Linked DNA regions of Homo sapiens. The protein of the gene in region 1 interacts with the protein of each later gene in a pairwise test. Each region holds a gene or a part of one and is shown in the gene's direction. Other genes may lie near its edges.

The links. The genes of interacting proteins can lie anywhere in the genome.
Region 2: the proteins of RAP2A (region 1) and MINK1 interact in binary tests that used the Homo sapiens proteins (3 or more experiments, as listed by UniProt).

What each region holds. Positions count from the first base shown.
Region 1 is NC_000013.11:97,458,156-97,465,180, forward strand, and holds part of RAP2A (ras-related protein Rap-2a), read left to right. Parts: intron 1-6,049; coding exon 6,050-6,287; 3' UTR 6,288-7,025. UniProt on the Homo sapiens protein: Small GTP-binding protein which cycles between a GDP-bound inactive and a GTP-bound active form. In its active form interacts with and regulates several effectors including MAP4K4, MINK1 and TNIK.
Region 2 is NC_000017.11:4,885,321-4,892,345, forward strand, and holds part of MINK1 (misshapen-like kinase 1), read left to right. Parts: intron 1-162; coding exon 163-293; intron 294-590; coding exon 591-645; intron 646-799; coding exon 800-878; intron 879-1,130; coding exon 1,131-1,306; intron 1,307-1,789; coding exon 1,790-1,859; intron 1,860-2,259; coding exon 2,260-2,470; intron 2,471-4,326; coding exon 4,327-4,443; intron 4,444-4,901; coding exon of another isoform or gene 4,902-4,988; intron 4,989-5,196; coding exon 5,197-5,415; intron 5,416-5,630; coding exon 5,631-5,804; intron 5,805-6,135; coding exon 6,136-6,396; intron 6,397-6,828; coding exon 6,829-6,914; intron 6,915-7,025. UniProt on the Homo sapiens protein: Serine/threonine kinase which acts as a negative regulator of Ras-related Rap2-mediated signal transduction to control neuronal structure and AMPA receptor trafficking.

The sequences.
Region 1 (7,025 bases):
GACGTTTTGCCTTGGGACTCTCTTGGTAGATGATTTTAACTGTGTGAAAAGATGAATGAGGGGACTTAGAAAAGCCTTTCTGATTCTCATTTCCAAATTCAAAGAGAATTATATTTCAACCTGCTTATCACTAAGAAGATACCAGCATGTTAAAATTCACATGAAGTATGACCTTCTTTAAATACGCTACGATGCAGCACCCTCAAAAGTAAAGTACAGAAACTGACAGTAGTGGTATCTGTCTACAGTTTATCATTGGTGAATAAATGAAGGGAAGAAGGAATTGAGTCTGGACTTGCCGCATATGGAACCATGAACTATACACATAGAATGTTGTTTGGGGTCACAAAGTAGTAGATTAGGCCAGTGATTCCTAAACCCTGCTGAACTTCAGAATCCATCTTCAGAGCTTATAGATATAGACATATTACATATTTTAATAGACTCTTGGGTCCTGATCCCACAGATTTAGATTAACTAGCTCTGGAATAGGGCCCAGAAATCACTATCTTTAAAAGAATTCTCAAGTTGTGTTGATGATCAGCCAAGTTCAGACACGACCAGAATAAAATATATATACGTATACATACCTACATATCAGGACAGTTACAAGAAAGGAGAAAGCAAAATAAAGTATTTTGATAAACACATCAAGTTCTTTTGAGTTACTGATATTTTAAAAAGCTGTCTCGGTGAGAAGCCCATTAACATTCTACAGCTAAGTGATGCTACAGCCAGTATTTCTGATGTTTCATTCAGTCCATTAAGCAGAGCTGCTTAAAAGAACTAGTTTTATTTATTTATACATTTATAATCAGGTTCATGAATACAGTCAACACTATGGAAATTCTTGTCAATAAAAAAGTGTTTGTCCACAGACTACACACAGAAATAAAATTATTAGACCTGCATCAGTCACCGTCTGAGCTGGTCATGCCCTTAAAGGAAATTTCAAGGAAGATGGGCTGAAGTTGGTGAGATATCTGCTGATGTTTAAGATGTAAGCAAGGTGGTATCTTACTCATGATCAGGTTAACAATAACACATACATTGAACAGTTTGAGAATTTTGCATCTTTAGCTTTATGTCCAAATGATGAAAAGGGGGTAAGGAAGAAATGATGAAAAGGGGGAAATGATGAAAAGGGGGAAAATGAAGGCAACCTGCAAAACTGATAATGAAAATAGAACATGAAAGTAACTGTCATCACCCACTAACAAAGCACCTCATCTTCCTAAATAACAGAGTCAGCCCTCTAAGTCAGTCTGTCATAAGTGCCAGATTTGTTTTCTGAGGCCACTTTTGGCACCCGAATTCCTGAGGTCTAGCTTCAAATGAGCATTTCCTCCACTGCCAGAGTCCTGCAGGAGGCTGTAGAGATGGATCCCACAGCTGGTCCCTGCACTGACAGGCATGCTGTCGCCGGCTCAGGCATTGTCTAGGGCATGTCCTGCTTAGAATGCTCTTCCCCTAGAACCTGCACGGTAGGGAGCAGATTCCCAGAAACCCTTCCCATCTTTGTTCACAGCCACTTTCCCAACAAGGCCTGGGATCATCTTATTTAAAACTGTGGCACCTGTGCTCCCCACCCACCACCTGATCCACATCTTTTTTTCCATTGCACTTAACACTTTTATTGTAAACCCAGAATTGACTTGTTATGTTTATTGTTGATGTCTGCGCCCTCTGCTAATTACAGAGCTTTATTTGCTTTGTCCATTGATGTAAGTGTCTAGAATAGTGGCTAGCACTTAGTATATAAATATGTGTTGAGTGGATGGATAAGTACATGATGTATTGATTGTTCGATTGTTCATTACTAGCTATTTATGCCACATCAGGCAGTTTTCAGTATAGCCTTCAGTATTCACGTAGTTAAAACCATCCCAAATATTTGTGTTTGAACAACGTTGTCTGTGAAATGGAACTGCCTAGGTCATGAGTGCATTTTGGAGTTCTGCTGTTGAGTCAGAGCATGCTGGCAGTAGTGGCTCCGCTTGTAGAAGTGAAACCTCCTGCTTATGTTTTGGCCCCATGAGATCTCATAAGATTTCCCCCAACATTTTTGGCTTTACTCCTGATGCACACTTTCATATCTCTTAAAGATCAGCCTGTTGGACGTTATTCTTAGAACAGTGCTAAGCACTCAGCAATTAACCTAGTCAATGATATGTGTTGACTGTGGGTGTGACCCACCATGTCTGTTGTGATTTTTAACTTCAGAGTATCTTAGGAATTATCCAGTCCAGCTCATTTTATACTTCAAGAAACTCAGGAAACCAAGATTAGGTTAATCTTCTAAATTCACAGTACTAGCTAGAGGCAGCCCCTTCTGGGACAGGAGTCCTAGTCTGTTTGGTTTCTTTTTTTTTTAAACCCACCATATTGCTAAAACAGATAGCAACACCAGCTTCCTCATGCAGTGCAGTCATCTACTGTCAACACAGGTCTTGGCTTCTTTCCCTTCAGCGTCTCACCCATCTTTCTTAAGGAGGATCCAGATTTCTCCAAATGTTACCTTCATATGGGACCCTATTCTGTCACCCCAATCCAGAGCCTTCTTAGAATGCCTTTCCCACAGGGGCCAGTATATTCTCTCGAGTGCCCGCTGTTTGGGAATGCTTGCTTTTCTGCTTTCCTAGGCCCCCATCACCATGGATGTTCAGCACAGGGACTCTGGAGAAGCACCTGGTTAGTGTCTGGTGGCTGCTTTGTTGTTTTTGACTCCCATCTTTTTTGCCTGTCTCTTCCTCCAGCTTCACCCTCAACTCGGTTTGCCCTCAGGAGTTCTTTACCTCCTTTGATCAGTTTCTCCGGCTCCTTCTTCACCCTTTGTGGCTTCTCAAGGCCACATCACTAGAGTTAGGAGGGGAAAGAAGCAAGCACCCTCCTTTTATCTAGTACTTCATTTTTTTCAGCATTATCTCATTTGCCCTTTACAGCAACCCTGTGTTAAGTGGGAACAGATACTCTTACTCCCTTTTTACTATCAAAGAAATGAAATACAGATATGTAAAGGAAATGATCTCATTGGCAGAACTGGAAGCAGAGCCTCCAAATCTGGGTGTAGAATCTTTTCTACTGTCCCAAATTTTAACAGAGAGACAAAATTTATCACCGTCTGGTATTCTGAAATGTACATAATTTTTCTCAACATCGTACTCAGTTTAAAAATCTTCTGAGGATATTAATGTGGATTTCTCTAGTGTCTTTAGAAACTTGATTTTAGAAAAGGCCACTGACAAGTTAGTGATATAATAAACAGGTCCTCTGATACTGACTGCATTTTCATCTACATTTACCAGTTATTAAATGCTGTTATATGTGGAACTGTGTTTGCAATATTTTATTTACTGTTTTGAGAATTAGGTTGATGGTAAGATTTATTCAAATTCTTGATTTTAATAATGTATCAATACAACTTAATAATTTGATTTATTTGCAAGTTTTGAAAATCCACATATTCTAGTAGATCCTGAACTTAACTAAAAGTGTAAGAAATATTTCACATATAAAACATGATACAGGCTGGGTGCGGTGGCTCACGCCTGTAATCCCAGCACTTTGGGAGGCTGAGGCGGGCGGATCACGAGGTCAGGAGATCGAGACCATCCTAGCTAACACGATGAAACCCTGTCTCTACTAAATATACAAAAAATTAGTCGGGCGTGGTGGTGGGCGCCTGTAGTCCCAGGTACTCAGGAGACTGAGGCAAGAGAATGGCGTGAACCCGGGAGGCGGAGCTTGCAGTGAGCAAAGATCATGCCACTGCACTCCAGCCTGGGAGACAGAGCGAGACTCCGTCTCAAAAAAAAAATATATATATATATATATTTATATATTTATATTTATATATTTATATAGATATTTATATATTTATATATATTTATATATATATTTATATATATATTTATATATTATATATATTGTATTTAAACATTCTTTAAAATATTTATCATTTATCTCAACTAATAGAAAGTGATCTTATCACTTTTTATTATTCATAGACAGACTGAAATTTGTTTTAACTTAAATTCAACCAATGTTTTACTTAATTTTATTAATGTTTTTAAGTTACTCCACTGTCAAGCAAAGCATTTTAAAGTACACTGTGATGTATATACTTTCATAAGAAAAACGAAATGTAATTACATTTTGCAAGTAACACAAATTGGAAGCTGACATTGTCCTGACATGGCTGGCAGTGTCTGCTCCCTGCCAAGCTTCTCTGTATAGCCAATCAAGAGAGTTTATATGCAAAGTAGCAAATACATGGTGTTTTGTAATGCAGCTTTATTCTCACTGCCACTTGCCCTCCTAGAGGCCATGGGATGCACAAATTGTTTGTATGTAAGAGTCCTAGAAGATGTTAAAAACCCTTGTGTCTTATGTTCAGAGCTGTCAGCATGATCTAAGGCCCGAAATCGTAAGGTACAGTAGTGTACAGTAAATTTATATAAAGTCCTTTGATATAAATTGAAGTTGTCCAAATTCATTTCCTATAAAATGATAATATCCAAATTCTAGGTTTGCCTTTGATGTTGTTCCTTCCACTCATTTTTAAGTTGTTTTCATGTTTCACATTGCCAAATGGCACACTACCTGGAGTATGCCCTCTTGTTGAGACCATTCTTAGTTTGATATAGTGTCAAAGAAAAAAAGTGAGAATGTTGGGAATTTGGTTTGCTTTACAAGTTAGGATGAGTGGAGAGAACCCTCTTGACAGGATGAAGAAATCTGTGGAAGTATCATAGCGAACAATAACCACCTGCCTATTATCCAGTTTCCTGAATGATAAAAATTGTCTATGCATCCTGCCTCAAAGGCTTGACCATGGGGTGGTTTTCTCTTCTGACAGATTTAGCTGTTTCCAGTCACATTTGTTATCACTTTTGTGCGATCTTGCTGTTTAGCTCCTTTAAATCAGAAATACATTCTGCTTATGGGAAGACACACACACACAAACACACACACACACAGATTTATACTAAAATCACAAAAACCTTTTAAAATGTCTTGTGAAAATATATTAGCTATCTTTCTTAGAACAAACATAAAGAAGAATAGTAAATAAATGTGCAGTCCAGCACCAGTGTTGACATCTGTTGTGAAATGTGCTACATGGAGTAACCATTGTAGAGACAATCATCTTAGGCACCAAAATGACTTAGGAGCTTCTTTCTTTGTTCTTTCTTATCACTTACTATTTTTATTAGTTTAGCTTTTTCCAAACGTGTTTACTCAGAGATACCTATTTTAGTTAGGAAGAAAAAGAGAAATAACACCAATTAAAGCTAATTGAGGCTGAATTCTTGTCAGTCTTAAAAGAATCCTAATTGTTTCTCTTTGAACTGACTAATCCATAAAAGTTTTCTGAAGGGATGGGGTGTGGTTGTATTTGATAGCTTCCATTTGGATGATTTCTACTACCTTTTTTCTTGTTTGAGAACTATTAGAACGAACATGATCATTTTTTCAAGCTGGAGTGCGGTGGCACGATCTCAGCTCACTGCAACCTCTGCCTCCCAGGTTCAAGCGATTCTCCTGTCTCAGCCTCCCGAGTAGCTGGAACTACAGGCACCTGCCACCACACCCAGCTGATTTTTGTATGAACATGATCAATTTTATACACATAGAACATAGTAAAATGCTGATAATTATAAGTTGTTTGTTTACTCATTGTAGCTATTTACTGTGTGATCAACTGTGAAATTTTGTGCAACCCTCTCTCAGAATGGAAAAAAAAGAGGATTTAGTCTGAGTTTCTGAGAATAATTTTCCAAGTATATCTGGAAAGGTAAATTGATTTTAAAGGATATATAATTGATTAATTAAAACATCATTTCATAAAACTCATTTTATCATCCACTGTGAGAGCAGCTTCAAATGCCCTCAGATCTAAGTATCAAGCCAAGTGGTACAAATCATTTTCATGCAACTGAAGATACCATTTATGTTGGAATAGCCCCCAAAAACGAAAATACACGTGACCTGTTTAACTTTGTGCTAACTGTTACAATGTATGTGTGTTTTGTTTATTCTCTCATAGGTATGAGAAAGTGCCAGTCATCTTGGTTGGGAACAAAGTGGACCTGGAAAGTGAGAGAGAAGTATCGTCCAGCGAAGGCAGAGCCCTTGCTGAAGAGTGGGGCTGCCCCTTTATGGAAACTTCCGCTAAGAGTAAAACAATGGTGGACGAACTCTTTGCAGAAATTGTGAGGCAGATGAACTATGCTGCTCAGCCTGACAAAGATGACCCATGCTGTTCTGCATGTAACATACAATAGCATCCAAATATGGCTGTCCTGGATGGGATTTGCCCAATGTCGTAGGTGATAGAAAACTCGCCTACTCCACTGCAGAACTTGCAGAATGCGTGGTGTTAATCTACAGAGAACTGCAGCCCTTATTCAGAATTGAGCAGTGATTGTCAGTTGATATCTCTGAGTAACATTTGGGTTCAGTAACTACAGTTTTCACCATTTGTCCTCAGTCTCCTTTATGCATCTGCAACTTTAAGGCATAGTCCATCGATCTACAGGGTGATCTCATTTGAAAGCTATGATGGCATTGTCGCTGAGTTGACAGAAGCAACTATTGTACAAATTAAAAATAACCATAAGGGAGAAACCAGAAGAATTCCTCTGACCACTTACAATTAAAATATTTTGTCTTCTTTAAAAAAATAAGTAAAGGAGAAATATTTTCCTACAAGAGTACTGAATTTCAGGAAATGGGATAGAGCTTCTAACCAATGTATTCCGTCAAGTAAGATAATAACAGCTGACCTGCCAACAGCATTACAGGGAGATTCTTTGCTCAGCTAACACATTTCTGTTTTTCAAAATTGATGCTTAATTGTAGCTGTTATTCTAATTTGTGACATGGAACTAACTCATGCTTCAATCCTTGATAGAGCAAAACTCAGAACAGGTTATGTAAAAATATAGTCTGGCTTTAGAATTTGTTAATTCACCTGCTTTGCCACAGAAAATGGAGGCTTTCACAAGGGTTTGATCAGAATT
Region 2 (7,025 bases), on another chromosome or scaffold:
GGGTTCTTCAGGATGGTGGTGGGGTAAAGGAGGGTGCTGGGGTGTCTGGGTCGGGCCAGGACCACAGCTGGCTCAGGCAAGTCCTGTGTGTGCACGCAGGGATGTGAGGCAAGGGAGCAGAGGTGACTCCCCACACTGACCCCTCCCTCTGTGTCTTCACAGTGGATTTTGGGGTGAGTGCTCAGCTGGACCGCACCGTGGGCAGACGGAACACTTTCATTGGGACTCCCTACTGGATGGCTCCAGAGGTCATCGCCTGTGATGAGAACCCTGATGCCACCTATGATTACAGGGTATGGAGTGGAAAGTTGGGAGCATGGGGGCTGCCAAGGGCGGGAAGCAATATGGGGACCACGGGGCCTGAGCAGGCTGGGGAACAGAGGAAGGTCAGATGATGTTAGCAGTGAGGGGCTGGGGAACATCTTACGGCAAGGCAAGTGTGGGTGGGAAGATGGGATGGGTTGGAAGGCACTGCTGCAGGAATGGGTGTGGCCCAGGAAGGCTCCTGAGAGGCCAGGATGGTGGGTGAAGAGAGGTTGCAGGGCAGAGTTGTCAGGAATATTCACTTGTTCCTTCTTTCCCGTCTATAGAGTGATATTTGGTCTCTAGGAATCACAGCCATCGAGATGGCAGAGGGAGCCCCCCGTAAGTTCTGAGTCTGCCGGGAGTGGGAGGGGAGGGAAAGGAAGGGCCCAGAGAGTGGCTGTAGGGAGGAGGTGGGTCCTGGGACCCTGCCGAGGAAGGGTCCTGTAGCTCCCAGTGCAGTGAAAGGGACTGAGGGTGTCTCCTCTGTGTCCAGCTCTGTGTGACATGCACCCCATGCGAGCCCTCTTCCTCATTCCTCGGAACCCTCCGCCCAGGCTCAAGTCCAAGAAGTGGTAGGTCTCTGAGAGTGTGGGCTCTGGGAAGGAAGGTCCCTGGACAAGGCCATCCCCACCTTCATGCCCTCTGTGCTCAGGCTTGGATCTCACCAGAGAAGAGATTCTGGGGGGCAGAGGGCGGTGACTGGTGTTGGGATATGAAGACAGGAGGGACGTCAAGGTGGCTTGTGGATGAATGATCCACCCTCTTCCTCCTGCACCCATCCCTTCTGAGGGGACCCTCCCAGTGTGAGCCACCACTGTTTCCAGGTCTAAGAAGTTCATTGACTTCATTGACACATGTCTCATCAAGACTTACCTGAGCCGCCCACCCACGGAGCAGCTACTGAAGTTTCCCTTCATCCGGGACCAGCCCACGGAGCGGCAGGTCCGCATCCAGCTTAAGGACCACATTGACCGATCCCGGAAGAAGCGGGGTGAGAAAGGTCAGTGGGCAGGCTGGAGGGGGCAGGTACTAGGGGACACTCCAGCCTGGCTCCTCTCTGCCAGCCCTGCTCGCTCCTGGCACCCCTTCCTGCTCCCCTCCTTGGCCCCAGCTCTCCCTGTCCAAGGAGATCGTTCTCAAACTTGCAACCCCCAAGGGGTTTTCCCTCCTTTCCCTCCCAGTCTGAATCAGCCTTCCAAAGGAGGACCGGCCTTTCGCATCCTTACAAAAACTCCATGCTAAGCACATGTGTGTGCGAGCACAAGCACAGGCTCTGCCACACCTCAGCTGCCCTGGGACCCAGTCCCGGTCCTGTCCAGGCCCACACCTGAGACCCGCTGTCCTCCCATTGCCCCCAGGAAGTGGGTGGGGCCCCTCATGCTTGCCCAGCCAGAGAGACCTGGTTATCCCCACCCAAGGTTTCCCTAGCCCACGGCGGGTCTGGGGCGCTGGGTGAGATAACTGCAGTGGCCTCCCCCTGCAGAGGAGACAGAATATGAGTACAGCGGCAGCGAGGAGGAAGATGACAGCCATGGAGAGGAAGGAGAGCCAAGGTAGGCCTGGCAGGTGGAGTGGGGGTTGGGGCGGTCATCGCTGAGTGGGGGGACTACAGTGGTGCTTGGCTTTGGGGACTCTCAGCCTGGGGGTGGTGGGCACAGAGAGGTAGAGACTCCTGGAAACCAAATTTCTGAGTGCTAAGAAGTGGAACCAATGACTGAGCAAGAGCTGGGGAGAGAGCAATTTGTGGTGAATGTGGGGCGCAGCAGTAATAGGAAAGGAGGACAGGACTGAAGACTGGGCAGAAGGGGACGGTAAGTCTCCTGGCCACCTGGGAGTGGCCAGAGGCAGAGGCTTTGATCCAGTTAAAGCACCCACTCAGGCGGGCCCACGGGGTTGAGAGTGGGAACCAACAGGGTTCTGACCCCAGTGCTTCTTTGTGCCACCCCTGCCCAGCTCCATCATGAACGTGCCTGGAGAGTCGACTCTACGCCGGGAGTTTCTCCGGCTCCAGCAGGAAAATAAGAGCAACTCAGAGGCTTTAAAACAGCAGCAGCAGCTGCAGCAGCAGCAGCAGCGAGACCCCGAGGCACACATCAAACACCTGCTGCACCAGCGGCAGCGGCGCATAGAGGAGCAGAAGGAGGAGCGGCGCCGCGTGGAGGAGGTGGGCTGTCTCCGAAGGGCCCAGGCCTGGCGCGGCCTCCTCCTGACCTGCCCCGGGTCCATTAGGGCCTTGGAGAACAGGTTTTAAAATGCCTTAAATGAATGGCATTTCTGTTGAAACAATTATATGATTTCAAATTTCATGATGAGCTGGACTTAACACAAAATGTAATCCCATCACTTTGGGAGGCTGAGGTGGGTAGATCACCTGAGGTCAGGAGTTTGAGACCAGCCTGGCCAACATGGTGAAACCCCATCTCTACTAATAATACAAAAATTAGCCAGGTGTGGTGGCGCATGCCTGTAATCCCAGCTACTCCGGAGGCTGAGGCAGGAGAATTGCTTGAACCCGGGAGGCGGAGGTTGCAGTGAGCAGAGATCACACCACTGCACTCCAGCCTGGGTGACAGAGCAAGACTCCGTCTCTAATAATAATAAGCAATAACCCGCAGCACCCACACTGTCCACCTGCTACCTCCAAAGTAGGCCCTCTCATTGTTGAACAAAAAATAATTTGCAAGAAAACCTGCTACAGAAGAGCCTTGTGCAGTTTTGAAAATATAGGCCAGGTGAGGTGGCTCACGCCTGTAATCCCAGCACTTTGGGAGTCGGAGGATGGGGGCGGATCGTGAGATCAGGAGTTCGAGACCAGCCTGTCTAATATGGTGAAACCCCATCTCTACTAAAAATACACAAATTAGCCAGGCGTGGTGGTGCACGCGCCTATAGTTCCAGCTACTTAGGAGGCTGAGGCAGGAGAATCGCTTGAACCTGGGAGGTGGAAGTTGTAGTGAGCTGAGATCACGCCACTGGCCTGGGGAACAGAGCAAGACTCCGTCTCCAAAAAATAAAAAAATAAAATAAATATAGCGTTCAGATAGTATAGTAACAAAGTCCTATCTTTTTTTTTTTTTTTTTTTTGAGATGGAGTTTTGCTCTTGTTGCCCAGGGTGACGAGTGCAGTGGCGCACTCTAGGCTCACCGCAAAACCTCCGTCTCCCAGGTTCAAGTGATTCTCCTGCCTCAGCCTCCTGAGGAGCTGGGATTACAGGAATGCGCCACCACGCCCGGCTAATTTTGTATTTTTTTCAGTAGAGACAGGGTTTCTGCATGTTGGTCAGGCTGGTCTCGAACTCCCGACCTCAGGTGATCCACCTGCCTCGGCCTCCCAAAGTGCTGGGATTACAGGTGTGAGCCACCGCGCCCAGCCACAGAGTCCTATCTAACAAGGTGTTACCTGGAGAAGGCCTGCTGGCAACTTCATTGCAGAAGTAGGCACAAGTTCCCTCAAGTGTAAGGGTCCCTCAGGGTTTGTGCTTTTGTTGGTGGTGGTGGTGGTAGACTTCGTGAAAGCCACCACAGAAATACCGTGAAAGTAAAGTACCACCTGGGCACTGGTGCTTGTCAAGGAGTGGGCCAGGTCCCTCTTTTCTGTGCTTTCTGTGCACGGGCACCTGGTGCCCTCTTGTGGCCAAAGGCTATCACTACGACCCGCTCTATATGGACTTCAGGCAAAGGTCGATTTTAGGCTAGGAGTGCTGGGGAGGCTTGTTTTGAGTTCGGCTTTGGTTTGTTGTTTGGTGGGGTGTGGGGAGTGGAAGGTGTTGTCTAGCTAAGCCCACCCCACAGGCAGCAGTCAGTCTCACAGCCTCTCTCGTCACAGCTACCGGCTGTTTACCCGAGCCCAGCCCCGCGGGCCCTTGGGTGGGGATGGGTATAGTTGCAGAAACAAGCGGAAGCCGGTCTCTCTTACCACCCTCCGTGGTGAGCAAGGAGGGCTCCCCTCCCTGTCCATGGAGGGGCAGTGCTGACGCGATGTCCGGTATGGTTCTTAAGACCACCTGGCTCTCCCCACAGCAACAGCGGCGGGAGCGGGAGCAGCGGAAGCTGCAGGAGAAGGAGCAGCAGCGGCGGCTGGAGGACATGCAGGCTCTGCGGCGGGAGGAGGAGCGGCGGCAGGCGGAGCGCGAGCAGGTAGAGCGCCGCACCCGCATCCCTGCCCTCCCGCCCTCCCGCTCCTGCTGCCTGCCGCCCCTGCTCCCCGTGCCCTTCCCCCTTCTCTCCCCCACCCCCAGATTCCTCCTATCTTTTCTAGCTTCACTCTTTCTCTCTGTTTTCTCCCACCCTTCAACCCCAACCCTGACCCCCTCCCTCTTCCTTCCCTGCCTCATTCCCATCTCTTTACCCCATCCCTGACTCCCCGACCCCTTCCTCATCCCCCCTCATTCCCTGTGCCCTCTTCTTCCCCATCTGTGCCGCATGGCCCCCTGGGGCTCATGTCATCCCCTCCCCTACCTCTCTCTTACTCTTCCCCTGCACCCCCTCATTCTCCTGCGGATCCCTTCCTCCTTCTCCAACTCGCTGCTGCTGCCCTCCTCTGCCTCTTCCTCCTTCCCTGCCCTCTGCCCCCCACCCCACACCCCGTCCCCCAGGAATATATTCGTCACAGGCTAGAGGAGGAGCAGCGACAGCTCGAGATCCTTCAGCAACAGCTGCTCCAGGAACAGGCCCTGCTGCTGGTAACGGGTCCCTCAGCGTCCTCTGGGAAGATGCTTTTCAGAGCTTCTTTGCTGGAACGGGATGGGAACACTTCAAGGGAAGGGATTCACCCAGGACATCAAGGGAATACATCTCCTCTCTAGGCAGTTGGAGAAAAGAGAGGGCATGCCTGCTCTAACTCCCAGGGCCACACCCTGCTGAGCCCTCTCTCCCTACCCTTGGGCCCAGGAATACAAGCGGAAGCAGCTGGAGGAGCAGCGGCAGTCAGAACGTCTCCAGAGGCAGCTGCAGCAGGAGCATGCCTACCTCAAGTCCCTGCAGCAGCAGCAACAGCAGCAGCAGCTTCAGAAACAGCAGCAGCAGCAGCTCCTGCCTGGGGACAGGAAGCCCCTGTACCATTATGGTCGGGGCATGAATCCCGCTGACAAACCAGCCTGGGCCCGAGAGGTACTCACTGCCTCCTTTGCCTCCTGAGACTGCAGTCCCACTGCCTGAGGCCTGGAGAGCCACAAGAAGTAGTAGTTCACAGTAGCAGGCACCAAGTAGGGGAAAGGAGCACACAGCACAGAGCATAGGGCGGGAGTAGTTAGGGCAGGTGGGACCCTCAGTTTTGAGAACAGGGAGGCAAGAGCTGGCCTGCTTGACATCCCTTCACATCACAGGTAGAAGAGAGAACAAGGATGAACAAGCAGCAGAACTCTCCCTTGGCCAAGAGCAAGCCAGGCAGCACGGGGCCTGAGCCCCCCATCCCCCAGGCCTCCCCAGGGCCCCCAGGACCCCTTTCCCAGACTCCTCCTATGCAGAGGCCGGTGGAGCCCCAGGAGGGACCGCACAAGGTGAGTCTCTCCCCACCCCTGTCTTAATGAAGACACAGGGAGCTTTGTTCAGAGCACAGGTACACACACACGCGCGCACACACACACACACACACACACACCTGCTCAGCCGTGAGCCAGGATTACAGAGCACAGGCTTTGTGGACAGACTCACTCACCTGCTTCTTGCTGCCTGTGTCTGTCCTGACTTAGCTGTCATCAGGCTCAAGGAACCCCTTGTCCTTCAATGGAGGAAGGGGCAGCTAAAGTCCTTTCCCACCCCAGACCCCAATTCGCAGGTGGGGATGTGCCATGGAGCAGGCAGCCCACCCTCCCTGGTCTCTCCCTGCAGAGCCTGGTGGCACACCGGGTCCCACTGAAGCCATATGCAGCACCTGTACCCCGATCCCAGTCCCTGCAGGACCAGCCCACCCGAAACCTGGCTGCCTTCCCAGCCTCCCATGACCCCGACCCTGCCATCCCCGCACCCACTGCCACGCCCAGTGCCCGAGGAGCTGTCATCCGCCAGAATTCAGACCCCACCTCTGAAGGACCTGGCCCCAGCCCGAATCCCCCAGCCTGGGTCCGCCCAGATAACGAGGCCCCACCCAAGGTAAGGACAGTTCTGCAGGCCCAGGGAAAAGCAGAGAGCTAGTCATGAAGAGAAGGAGGGCAGTGAAGGGGCAGGCCACATGGAGGAAGAGTGCAGGGCGGGAAGCGAGAGAAAGCCAGGGCGCTGCCCTGCCGGGGTCAGCCGTCCAGCTGAGGACGCGACGTGGAGGGGTGGCATCGATCCCTGTGGGGAGCGTGGGAACGGAGAAACGCCCAGGGTGTTTTGGGAGCGCTAAGGGGCAGACTTTGCCAGTTAGAACCGCAGCTCCACCATCATCCGGCTTCATAACCCTGGACGTATTCACTAACTCCCCTGAACCTCAGTTTTCTCATCCATCAAAGTGGGGGAGCTCACCTCTCAGAGGTGAGGCTTAAACATCTGAGAAGTGCCTGTCGCAGCGCCAGCTCGCAGCACGTGGACTTCTCTCCACAGGTGCCTCAGAGGACCTCATCTATCGCCACTGCCCTTAACACCAGTGGGGCCGGAGGGTCCCGGCCAGCCCAGGCAGTCCGTGCCAGGTAATGCCTGGGTAGGGCAACGCCTGGGTGAGGTCTGAGGGCAGCCTAGGGAGTAGGGGGGGCACAGGGACTTTACCAGCCTACCCGCCTGGGGGTGGGAAAGCCCCAGCC